2 separate regions of the Homo sapiens genome follow, and region 1 is linked to region 2. Evidence: fine-mapped expression QTL. A gene starts in region 2. The other region holds a variant in brackets. All regions are shown on one strand. Distances are between the middles of the regions. Region 1 overlaps LINC02207 (long intergenic non-protein coding RNA 2207). Region 2 holds the start of LINC02207 (long intergenic non-protein coding RNA 2207).

What was found. PIP is the estimated chance that this variant, and not a neighbour inherited with it, causes the effect.
Region 1: its variant is fine-mapped to the expression of LINC02207 in whole blood (TOPMed, PIP above 0.99).

Annotation. Positions count from the first base shown.
Region 1 is chr15:93,860,790-93,866,181 of GRCh38, reverse strand. It overlaps LINC02207 (long intergenic non-protein coding RNA 2207), which reads right to left. Exons shown (of 4, transcript NR_120321.1): 2 at 534-808. Among named protein-coding and RNA genes, the nearest start is that of LINC02207, 6.9 kb to the right of the region's middle. The variant C/T (reference allele first, on the strand shown) is at 3,235.
Region 2 is chr15:93,854,011-93,859,402 of GRCh38, reverse strand. It overlaps LINC02207 (long intergenic non-protein coding RNA 2207), which reads right to left and starts at 2,843. Exons shown (of 4, transcript NR_120321.1): 1 at 2,807-2,843.

The DNA of each region.
Region 1 (5,392 bases), 6.8 kb before region 2:
CAGGGATTAAAAAAAATGACTATCAATTATAGCAACATCAGGTAGAGGGTTTGGTATACATTTCCGATGAGCTTAGATTTCTCTCAAATTCTCATACTTTTAAGATTTATTTTTAAATGTGAGCATTGAAACTTAACCAATCCTTTAGACTCTTACTCAACAAGGGATTCTAAAGAACATTTCTCAGTAGGAATTAATCATTTATTTTGAAACTACATATCTAATTTGTCTACTATGGGAAGGATATGGAAAGAGAAAACCCAATTCTTTTTATTTTTTGGAACAGCTGGGTCCCCAAACCACCAGCAGCTGCTTCACAAATTGCCTAGCCATTAAGTAATTATTTCCTCATCATAAGAGCAGCTGGAAGAGCTAGTCTCTCTCCCTCCCCAGTGCAACTCCCACTTCCTTCTGCCTCCTCCACCCTGTCCTGAAATGGGCAGGCCAAGAGGTATACGGTATTGGTTTTCTTTACGTAATTGAAGACTGGAATTGAGCACTCTGATAGCTGATTATTTTTCAACAGCGCTTACCTTAAAGGCAACAGAGGATGACTTGGATTCTTGTGATGCTAGATCTCTACGTGACATGAAATGTTGATATCTAGGCATGTAGGCCACTTCCCTCGTTTTGTTGGTAAGGAACTTAAGTGCAGAGAAATGGTTTATTCAAAGTCCCATTTAGCAAGTGGCAGAGCTGAGTCTTGGATTCAGGTCTTACCACTTCTGGCCCAGTGTTGTCTCCACTATCCATGACAATGGACCGCAAACTTGCCTCATCTTCCTACCAGTCATCTGCTATCTGGGGACTGAAGAAACAGATGAAATGGGCGATGTTTTCTATTTCATCAAAAGAAAAAGATAACGTTGAAGTTTTAGCAATTGCATATACTTTCCAAAAGTGTAAAGACAATATAAAAATGCCTCATAAAACCACAAACTACACACTCAAAAATATCAGTCAATACCATCAATCTACTCCATACCCAGTCAAAGTCAAGGAAAGTTCACATTTTATGGGTAAACAAAGAGCTTTAGGGAAAGATTAAATCATCCAAAAAATTGGCCATATTTGGAGTTCAATCAATTTTAAGTTCTGTCTCTATCCCCCCAAAACATAGTAACATATTTTGATACTTTTTCTTCCAAGATTCCTCAGAATAGTGGCTCCTACTCTGGAAGCATTTCACTTTGCGCTAATCCAGTGTTTCATAATGTGTGGTCCATGAAAACTTTGTGTATATTCTAAGGATCTAGGATAGGAACAGAAGGGGAGGATGGTGTACTCGTTAAAAGTTCAGATTCCTGGGCCTTGCCCCAGACATACTTAATCCTAATTTCTGAAAGGTGGAGTGAGGGATGAGGTTAGAAGTAGTAATTAGCATAATTTTCCTTTTTGTATCTGCCTCTATAACTTCAGACAACCACCATGTCTTAGTCTGTTTTGAAATGCCATGAAGGAATATCTGAGGCTGGGTAATTTATAAAGACAAGAGGTTTATTGGAGAGAAAAGGAAATACTTATACACTGTTAGTGGGAATGTAAATTAGTTCAGCCATTGTGGAAAGCAGTTTGGAGATTTCTCAAAGAACTTAACGTAGAACAGCCTTTTGACCCAGCAATTCTGTTACTCGGTGTATACCCAAAGTAATATTAATTGTTCTACCATAAAGACACATGGACATGTATGTTTATCTCAGCACTATTCACAATAGCAAAAACATGGAGTCAACCTACATGCCCATCAACAGTGGACTGAATAAAGAAAACATGGTATATATACACCATGGAATACTATGCCACTATTAAAAAACAATGAGATCGTGTCTTTTGCAGCAACATGGATGGAGCTGAATGCCATTATCCTAAGATAATTCATGCAGGAACAAAAAACCAAATACCTCATGTTCTCACTTGTAAGTGAAAGCTAAACATGGAGTACACATGTACACAAAGAAAGGAACAATAGACACCAAAGCCTGCTTGAGGGTGGAGGATAGGAGGAGGGTGCGGATCAAAAACATACCTATAGATGCTATGCTTATTTCCTGGATGACAAAATAATCTGTACACCAAACTCCTATGGTATGAAATTTACCCATGTAGCAAACCTGCACATGTAGCCCCTGAGTACATGTTTCTTAACAACATAAATGTAACATTAGTCAAGCCAATACATATGTTTCTTCGGACATTAAGTAGTAGATAACTATTAGGAAGATGAGGCAAGTTCATGGCCCACTGTCACAACACAGTGGAGAAAACACTCCACTGGGCCTTTATTTCCCAACTAAAACAAAAGTTGGGAAGAAAAACAATAAGAAGAAAGGTTTGTTTGGCTCATGGTTCTGTGGGCTCTACTAGAAGCATGGCAGTGGCATCTGCATCAGGTGAGGCCTCAGGCTGCTTCCACTCATGGCAAACGGCAGAGGAGAGCTGGCTGTGCAGAGATCACATGGTGGGAGAGGAAGCAAGAGAGGGAGAAATAGTGCCAGGCTCTTTTTCACAGCTGTCTCTCATGGGAACTAACATGGTGAGAACTCAGTCACTCCCTCCCCTCAGAAAGGGCATTCATCTATTAATGGGGATCTGCTCCTACTACCCAGACACCTCGAATTAGACCCCCTTCCAACACTGGAATCAAACTTCAACATGAGGTTTGAGGGGGTCAAACAGCCAACCCATAGCCCAGCCTGTAGACACAAATGAGGTAACTTCAGTGCTTAAAACCCACTCTGCTAGACTGCAGCTTCCACGGGTACCCTCAGAATCTTTGCATCACCCCACATGACTCTAACTCGCCATGAATTTCAGTTATTTGGAGCATCATTGACAGCTGACAACCACTTCTCTTACGAGGTCTTTATTCTGGTCTTCACATGCTATGCCCACTCCCACAAGGCACCGTAGATACATTTGGTCAAACCATCCCCCCCTGAGAACACCTCTGCTTTGAGCAAAATACCTGCTGCTGGTGCTCTCAGAGATGTGAGAAGCTCCAGGAGTCCCAGTGGTCCTGCACTGACTTTTGCCATCACCATACTGCAGGATTCATGCTGGGATCTGCTCGAAGTGGGGAGAAGGATCCTGTCTCTAGTCTGGGGTTGCTTGTTGTCACTTGAGCTCAGGCATTTTACTCCTTGTCTCTGATCTCACAGAGTCCGTTACATAAATGACTTCCTCAGCTTTCACCGCGCTCTTCCTTCCTCTTGGGCTCTGACGCAAGTCTGGGAA[C/T]GTACTGTATTATTTGCCCGTAGCTCAGTCTCTGGCCCTGACACAACACCCCAGACACCCTCCTCTAAGTCTCCTTTTTCCCATGGACAGAACTCTGTCATACAGGCACATGGGTTTTCCATAACCTCAAAACTCAGCAGAAAGTCTGTGAATCCCAGTTATGGTGCCAGTGAAATATCCCCCTCCCTTCGTTTTCACTTGCAGGCATCCATTATTTTGAAAATTGCTTTGTGCCTCATATTCCCATTCCATTCACATATTCATTCCCACATAAATTTGGGAGATATGCATGACAAAATACTAACAGAAAAGGAGAAATAAAATAGAGAAACATAAAAGGGCAGAAACAACATTAAGGACATGAGAAAACTTTAAACAGGAACAATAGAGAAATGGGGAAATAGAACCAGAAATGCACAGAATAGACATGTGGGTAGGATAAAGCAATGAAGAAACACAAAAAGAGATATGGAAGACACAATCGGGTAATGATAATAATATTGGCTAATATTTATTGAGCACTTATGCTGCATCAGGCCTTATGCTATGTGCTTTACTTGCAAAATCTCCGTGAAGCACCATAATAACCCTATCAATAAACACTATTTGAATTTCCATTTTGTATGAGGCAGGTGAGACTTAATCAGTCTCGGAACTAACAGTCTGTGGCTTCCGCATCTGTGGTAAATCTGCTACCCTGATTCCCCCAAGCACTCTCCTGTACTCTGGCTACTCCAAGTCCTCCTCTGGGTCACCTCCTTTGACTGCTCCCCACTTGGCCTGTTCCCCTCCCTGCTTTCACATGATCCAGTGACTCAAAGCTGAGCGCCTGGTACAGCAGGAACTCCCAGTACCTGCTCCTGGGCTGTGCTGTCATCTGCTTGAACTGGTTGAGCCTCAACAATTTTATCTATTTTGACTATGACCCCTGATTAGAAGTTCAGTCAATTTTCCAGCTACAGTAGTCCATGAGGATACATTCCAGGCAACCCCCCTGCAGTGGTTGCCAGAAACCACAAATAGTACTGAATCCTATGTATATTATGTTTTTTCCTGTATATGGATACCTTATAATAAAGTGTAATTTATAAATTAGCCACAGGAAGAGATTAACAACAATTAATAATAAAATAGAATAGTTGAGTTAAATAATTGAGTACAAGCACTGCTGCAATACAATGGCCGCCGGTCTGATAACCGAGATGGCTGCTAAGTGACTAACAGGCAGGTACTGTCTACGGCGCAGACACGCCGGACACATGGATGCATCACGTCTCAGGCAGGATAGAGAGGGACAGAGAGAGATTTCATCACGCTACTCAGCAACAGTGCGTAATTGAAAACATATGAATTATTTCTTTCTGAAATTTTTCTTTTGATATTTTCAGACTGTGGCTGACTAGATAACTGAAACCACAGAAAGTGAAACCACAGATAAGGGGGGACTACTGTCATAAGTGGTAAGCTAGGTTTTGAACTAGGGCAGAGAGTTTCCTGGCAAGAATAAGGCCCCAGTGAAATATGATGAAAAATGATAGTAATGATGAACTGAAAATTTTTTAAAACTTTAAAATGGTCATTTGATGAATGATTTAAAAAGTAAAGGGTCAGAGAGGGTCAGGCAGGAACTGGAAAATGAGCATCGACTGCCCCTCCTCCCATTTTGTCCAGTGAAAAAACTGAGGCCATGGTCTTCCCAGTCATCTCATTGGGCATGCCCGGGTTGGGGATGGCCAGGCTTCACATCTCTGCTCTCTCCAGCATTGGGAGGATTCTAAAATGATTTTCCACAGGATGCTGATAGTCAATGGCAGCGACCATGATGGTAATACACTAGAAAAAAGAGCAACTGAAGAAAATGCAAATATAGCGGCAAATGTGCTTAAATTAAGGCAACAGCAATAAAAAAAACCAGAGGTAGAAAGTGTTAAGCCTTAGTTACCGCACCAAACAATTGACATGCTTCCTACCCACCCTCAGACCTGGTTGTTAAATGCAAGCTATACATTATGCAGACCCGATAATGAAAATCTACATTCCATAATTTGCAACCTGCTGGCTCTGTTATGCCAAGTGCATCTTAAAGAAGGCATCTTTCAACCTAATTGCATGCAATTTTTCCCCATTCTAATTGTGTTATGAAAATACCACTATCTCA
Region 2 (5,392 bases):
AAAGCCACAAAATTCCTATCAATAGTGACATCATAGTCATTGTCGTGTCACAACTCAATGCATTACTCACATGTTTGTGGTCATCCTGGTGTAAACAAACCTACTGTATTTTCAATTGTAAAAAAATTATAGCACATGCAATTATGTGCAGTACATAATAATAAATGGCTATGTTACTAGCTTATGAAATAAATACTATACTATATTTTTCATCATTATTTTAGAGTGTACTTATAAATAAGTTATTTTGAAGCAGCCTCAGGCAGGTCCTCCAGGAGGTATTCCAGAAGAAGGCACTGTTATCACAGGAGATGACAGCTCCGTGTGTGTTTTTGCCCCGAAGACTTTCCAATGGGACAAGAGGTGGGACAAGAGAGTGATATTGATGATCCTGACCCTGTGTAGGCCTAGGCTATTGCGTGTCCATATCTTCATTTTTAACAAAAACTTTAAAAAGTAAAAAAAGAGATTTAAAAATAGAAAAAAGCTTTAGAATAAGGATATACAAAAGAAACTAATTTTGTACAGCTGTACAATGTGTTTGTGTTTTAAGTGTTATTACAGAAAAGTCAAAAACTTTTTAAAACTTAAAAAGCTTATAAAGTAAAAAGGTTACAGTAAGCTAAGGTTAACTTATTATTAAAGAAAGAAAAAAGTTATAAAGGTAGCGTGGCCTAAGTGAACAGTGTTTATAAAGTGTACCGTAATGCACGGTAACTTCCTAGGCCTTCACATTCACTCACTACTCACTGACTCACCCAGCGCAACTTCCAGTCCTGCAAGCTCCATTCATGGTAAGTGCCCTACACAAGTATGCCATTTTTTATATTTTATAGCATATTTTTACCGTACCTTTCTATGTTTAGATACACAAGTACCATTGTGTTACAATTGCCTACAGTATTCAGTACAGTAACAGACTGTACAGGTTTGTAGCCTAGGAGTAATTGGCTATTCCATACAGCCTAGGTACGGAGTAGGCTATGCCATCTAGATCTGTGTGAGTACATTCTGTGATGTTCACACCATTATGAAATCACCTGATGCACTTCTCAGAATGTATCCCCATCATTAAGCTAGAATAATATATATATATATGGATATATATATATATATATCCCATTATCTTTTGTCTCTACGCTCATTCAACTTGAACTGTTTCAAACTTTGGAGACTTACAATTATGCTGATTCCTTTATTTAATAAAAGAAAAAATTAAGCTCTCATGGCTCGTGGCTTTTCTTATTGCCACTGCATGGACTCTGAACCTCTGTCTCAGCCAGGCACGAGGAAGCAGAGAGGTGGTGAACTGAGAGCTGCAGGGTCTCACTGTTTTGTTCTAGATCAGCACTTTTTAAACTTTAGTGGGTGCAAATCACATGAGGATGTCATTAAAGTAAAGATTACAATATAGTATGTCTGGAATGAATCTTAAGATTCTGCCTTTTCAACAAGTTCCCAGCATATATGGTGTTGTTCTTCTGCAGACCCCGCTTTAAGAAAAAAAATTAGAAAGCTCTAGATCTTAATTCAAAACTCTTATTTTTTTCAACTTGGGGGTGGGAATGGTGGTAAGACAATTTGGCAAGATTTGGCAATAGGGACTGCTAGTATAATAGACTATTTCTCTCATCTATTCCCCTCTTCACCCCTCTTGACACACCCTGCCAGAATGCATGTGACCTTCCAGAAAGGAATTATGCTCAGCAAAATGCCCTGAGGTATTAAATAATGAACTAAAATATGACTCTTTTTTTTTTTTTCTGAGACAGAGTCTGGCCCTGTTGCCAGGCTGGAGTGCAGTGGCACCAGGACCAGGTTGGAGTGCAGTGGCGTGATCTCGGCTCACTGCAAACTCCGACTCCCTGGTTCAAGCAATTCTCCTGCCTCAGCCTCCCAAGTAGCTGAGATTACAGACACATGCCACCACGCCCAGCTAATTTTTGTATTTTTAGTACAGACGGGGTTTCACCGTGTTGGCCAGAATTGTCTCTATCTCCTGACCTCGTGATCCTCCCGCCTCGACCTCCCAATAAAATATGACTCTTAACAAATATAAAATGAATGTATGTAAAGATTTTCTTTAAGTAATGAGTGAACCAGTAAGATGTTACGATCAGTATGAGGGAGGATTCAAACAACACACACATCCGTGCAATCAGAAATGCTGAAATAAACAAACACAGAAGATGTCAATAGTTACTGGGCAATAATACATTTGATTCTACTGGACAAAGTTTATTTGCATTCCTAGGAAAAAGTCATTTGCATTCACATAAGCTTTCTACACATTACAGATTTATAAAATGGTTCAAAAGAAGTGCAGACCCCTATAGAATTAGGTAAAATGGAAAGGCAGCTAAAGAGGACACCTAGTAATTATTTTATCCATTTCAAAGTCTTTCCACAATTTTTCCTGACAGAGATAACACTTTAGGAAGAATATCCTAAGTTAATTGAGAAGCCATATGAGAAATAATATAACTATTGCCCCCAAACTAGCCCTGTCCTCTTATCCCCTCCTAACCACACACTAGCCGGCATCAGGAACCAGGACATAATCAGACAGCTCCTTTCCCGTCTCTCCTTTCCCAATCATACAATGCACATGCCACCTGTTCACCATTTTTTTCCACCCCTCACCATCCCATACCCACATAGATGTTCTCTTTCCCATTCTCCTAAACTTCCTCAAATATTCTTTCTAGGAAGGCTTATCTCAAATATCATCTCCTCATTGAATAACAATAATGATGATAATAAAAGCCACTAATTGATTCCTTAGCTCTTTAGCTCACCACCTCACCTTCACAACTATCCTCAGAGGTAAGCTGTTATCATTGCAATTTTACAGCTGGGGAAACCAGAGCTGAGAGAGCCCGAGCCTTTTTCATAAGGTCACAAAACTATTATGAGGTGGTAAATGCTTTACTACCATGAAATAAAAAGATTTCCTCTCTCTTAGAGCTTTAGCACTCTGTCCATGTGCTCACTTAGCTTTTTTATCACATACCACGTATGGCTGTTTGTCTTCTAGCTCTCCCATTTCTTCTTTATCATCTTTCTTTGCATAACCACAACCTCCCTGCCTCAAAGTTACCTGTGCCTCTGCTCCTCATGAGAAAGCAGATAGCATGTCCTATCCATGCATGGGTCCATATACAGGGTAAGCTTTTACTAAATAGAACTGAAAGGTGAGTTTTATGACAATATAAACACAAATATATTTATGTCATTATATTCTCTTTTGTACATTACCTGTAGCAAATTATCATGTAGGTATTCAATAATATTTTCTTCAAATTTGATCTCCAAGGGAAATTGGAAAAGAAAATCAGAATTTCTAAAACACAATTCCACAGGAAGAAACACTTTTTAAAAATATTTAATTTTAAAATTAAAGACAGGTTTAGCTGCAGGCAAAGTAATCAGCATGACGAATGAGGATGGGTGATTTGGTCTCCTACTCCAACTTTGCCGTCTGAGTTCCCTGGGCTCTTAGAGGCTCAGAGTATCCCAGGCTGGACGGAGTCTGATAAACTCCGTGAATGTGTGTGCACTGTAAGCTAACAATGGAAGCACTGGCGTGGTGTCTTAGAAAGTATTCCTAATATCAGTACCTCTTACCCTCAAAGGACTTGTTCAGAGCCAAACGCCAGGGACTTAGGTAGAGGAAACATTTGAGAGGAGGAGAGTTTTTATTAAGTTTCCAAACTCACTCTATGTATGTCAGGTAATTTGACCTCATGTGAGAGGCAGCTGGCTGTGGGAGAACTGAAGTTTGGGCTGGGCTTGAATATGTTTCCTTCATACGGTGTGACCTTCCCCAAGTTATGCAAATCTTTGAGTCCCAATCTTCATGCTTAAATGAAAATGATGCCTGCCTGTTACAATTGCTTAAGGAATTAAATGGAGGTTTTCTCTATTTGCACGTGTGTGCATGTCACAATACACACAGAGAGAAACCACCAGGCAATGAAGGCTGATTCCATCCCTCCCCTGGTTAGTTCATATGATTTCTGAGCCTGCCAGAATTCCTTCCAGTGAAATGAAACTAAGGGAGAGAAACATCCCAAGGCCTGGATGCCTGGAAAGATTTTACCTAATGAATTTTCAGTTTATTTGTTATAAAAGTGAATTTGGTCTGATTGAAACAAAGTATTCACAGCTTTTCTGTGCTTTAAAATGTCATTACAAAAATGCAATTCTTTTCAAATATCTATTTTTAAACTTTATTTTCTAACTTCAATCTCAGGCCTTGATAAAAAAAAAAAAAAAAAGATGCTTAGTAATGTTTTGCCTTAGGAAATATTTTAAAAAGTTACTACCATAGGTTTATTTGACATCCAAGGACACATATATAAATAATTCAGAAGGTGGAAGTTATGGCAGAGGTCCATTTGTGATTAATAAGCCTAGAGCCTTATCAATAACATAATTTGAAGACTTTCAGCAATCTTCTACCGAATGCCTCCTATTCTCAAAGTAAACACATTGATCATGTAAATAGTGCTCTTTTTCTTTTCTAACTTGAGTGTATTTTTCCTCGCATTCAATGCTTTGAAGAGTAATACCTTCAGCCATGTAACAGGAGTTACTTTCTCCTCCTCTCCCTCTCTTTATCACCCTCTCTATCTCAGCAGGTATCTACTGCAGCCCCTTATATCTTTAACGTATTTATAGAATTTAACCCATTTTCACTATCAGTTTGGCCACTTATTCTTTCATTGATGAATATTTATTGAATCTATACCATGTTCAGCCAGTCTCTAAGATAGTTGGAATCCATCAGGAAATGAAACCCAAACGCCTGCTACCATGGAGTCTACATTTCAGCAGAGGACAACAGGACAATATACTTAATAATCGAGTAAATTATTTTACTATGGGAGAAGGTGGTAAGTGCTGTGAGGGAATAAAGAAAAAGTGGAGCTGGATAAGGAAGAATAGGAGTGCTGAAGTAGGTGGCGATTCAAATATGGTGGTCAATGTGACATTTGAACAAAGACTTACAGAAGGTAACAGAGTTCACTATACAGATAGGTAGGGAAAAACATTCCAGGCTAAAGCAACAGCTATTTCAAAGGCCTGAGGCAAGAATTTCCTTGCATGTTGGAGGCGGGGAGAGGGTGCCACCATGTCTGGAGCCAAGCGACAATTGGAGAGAGTCCTGGGAGATAAAACAGAGAGGTCAATGGGCCAGACTATGTAGGGATTTGTGGGCCATTGTATGGACCACATCTTTTGCTGTAATTAAAATGGGAACACTGGAAAGTTTTGTAATGGGCAGTGACATGAACTGACTCTGGCTTAGATTTCAAGAGGACCACTGGGGCTGCTGCCTTAAGAATAGCCTGTAGTGACACAAGGTCCTAAGCAGGAATCCAAATTA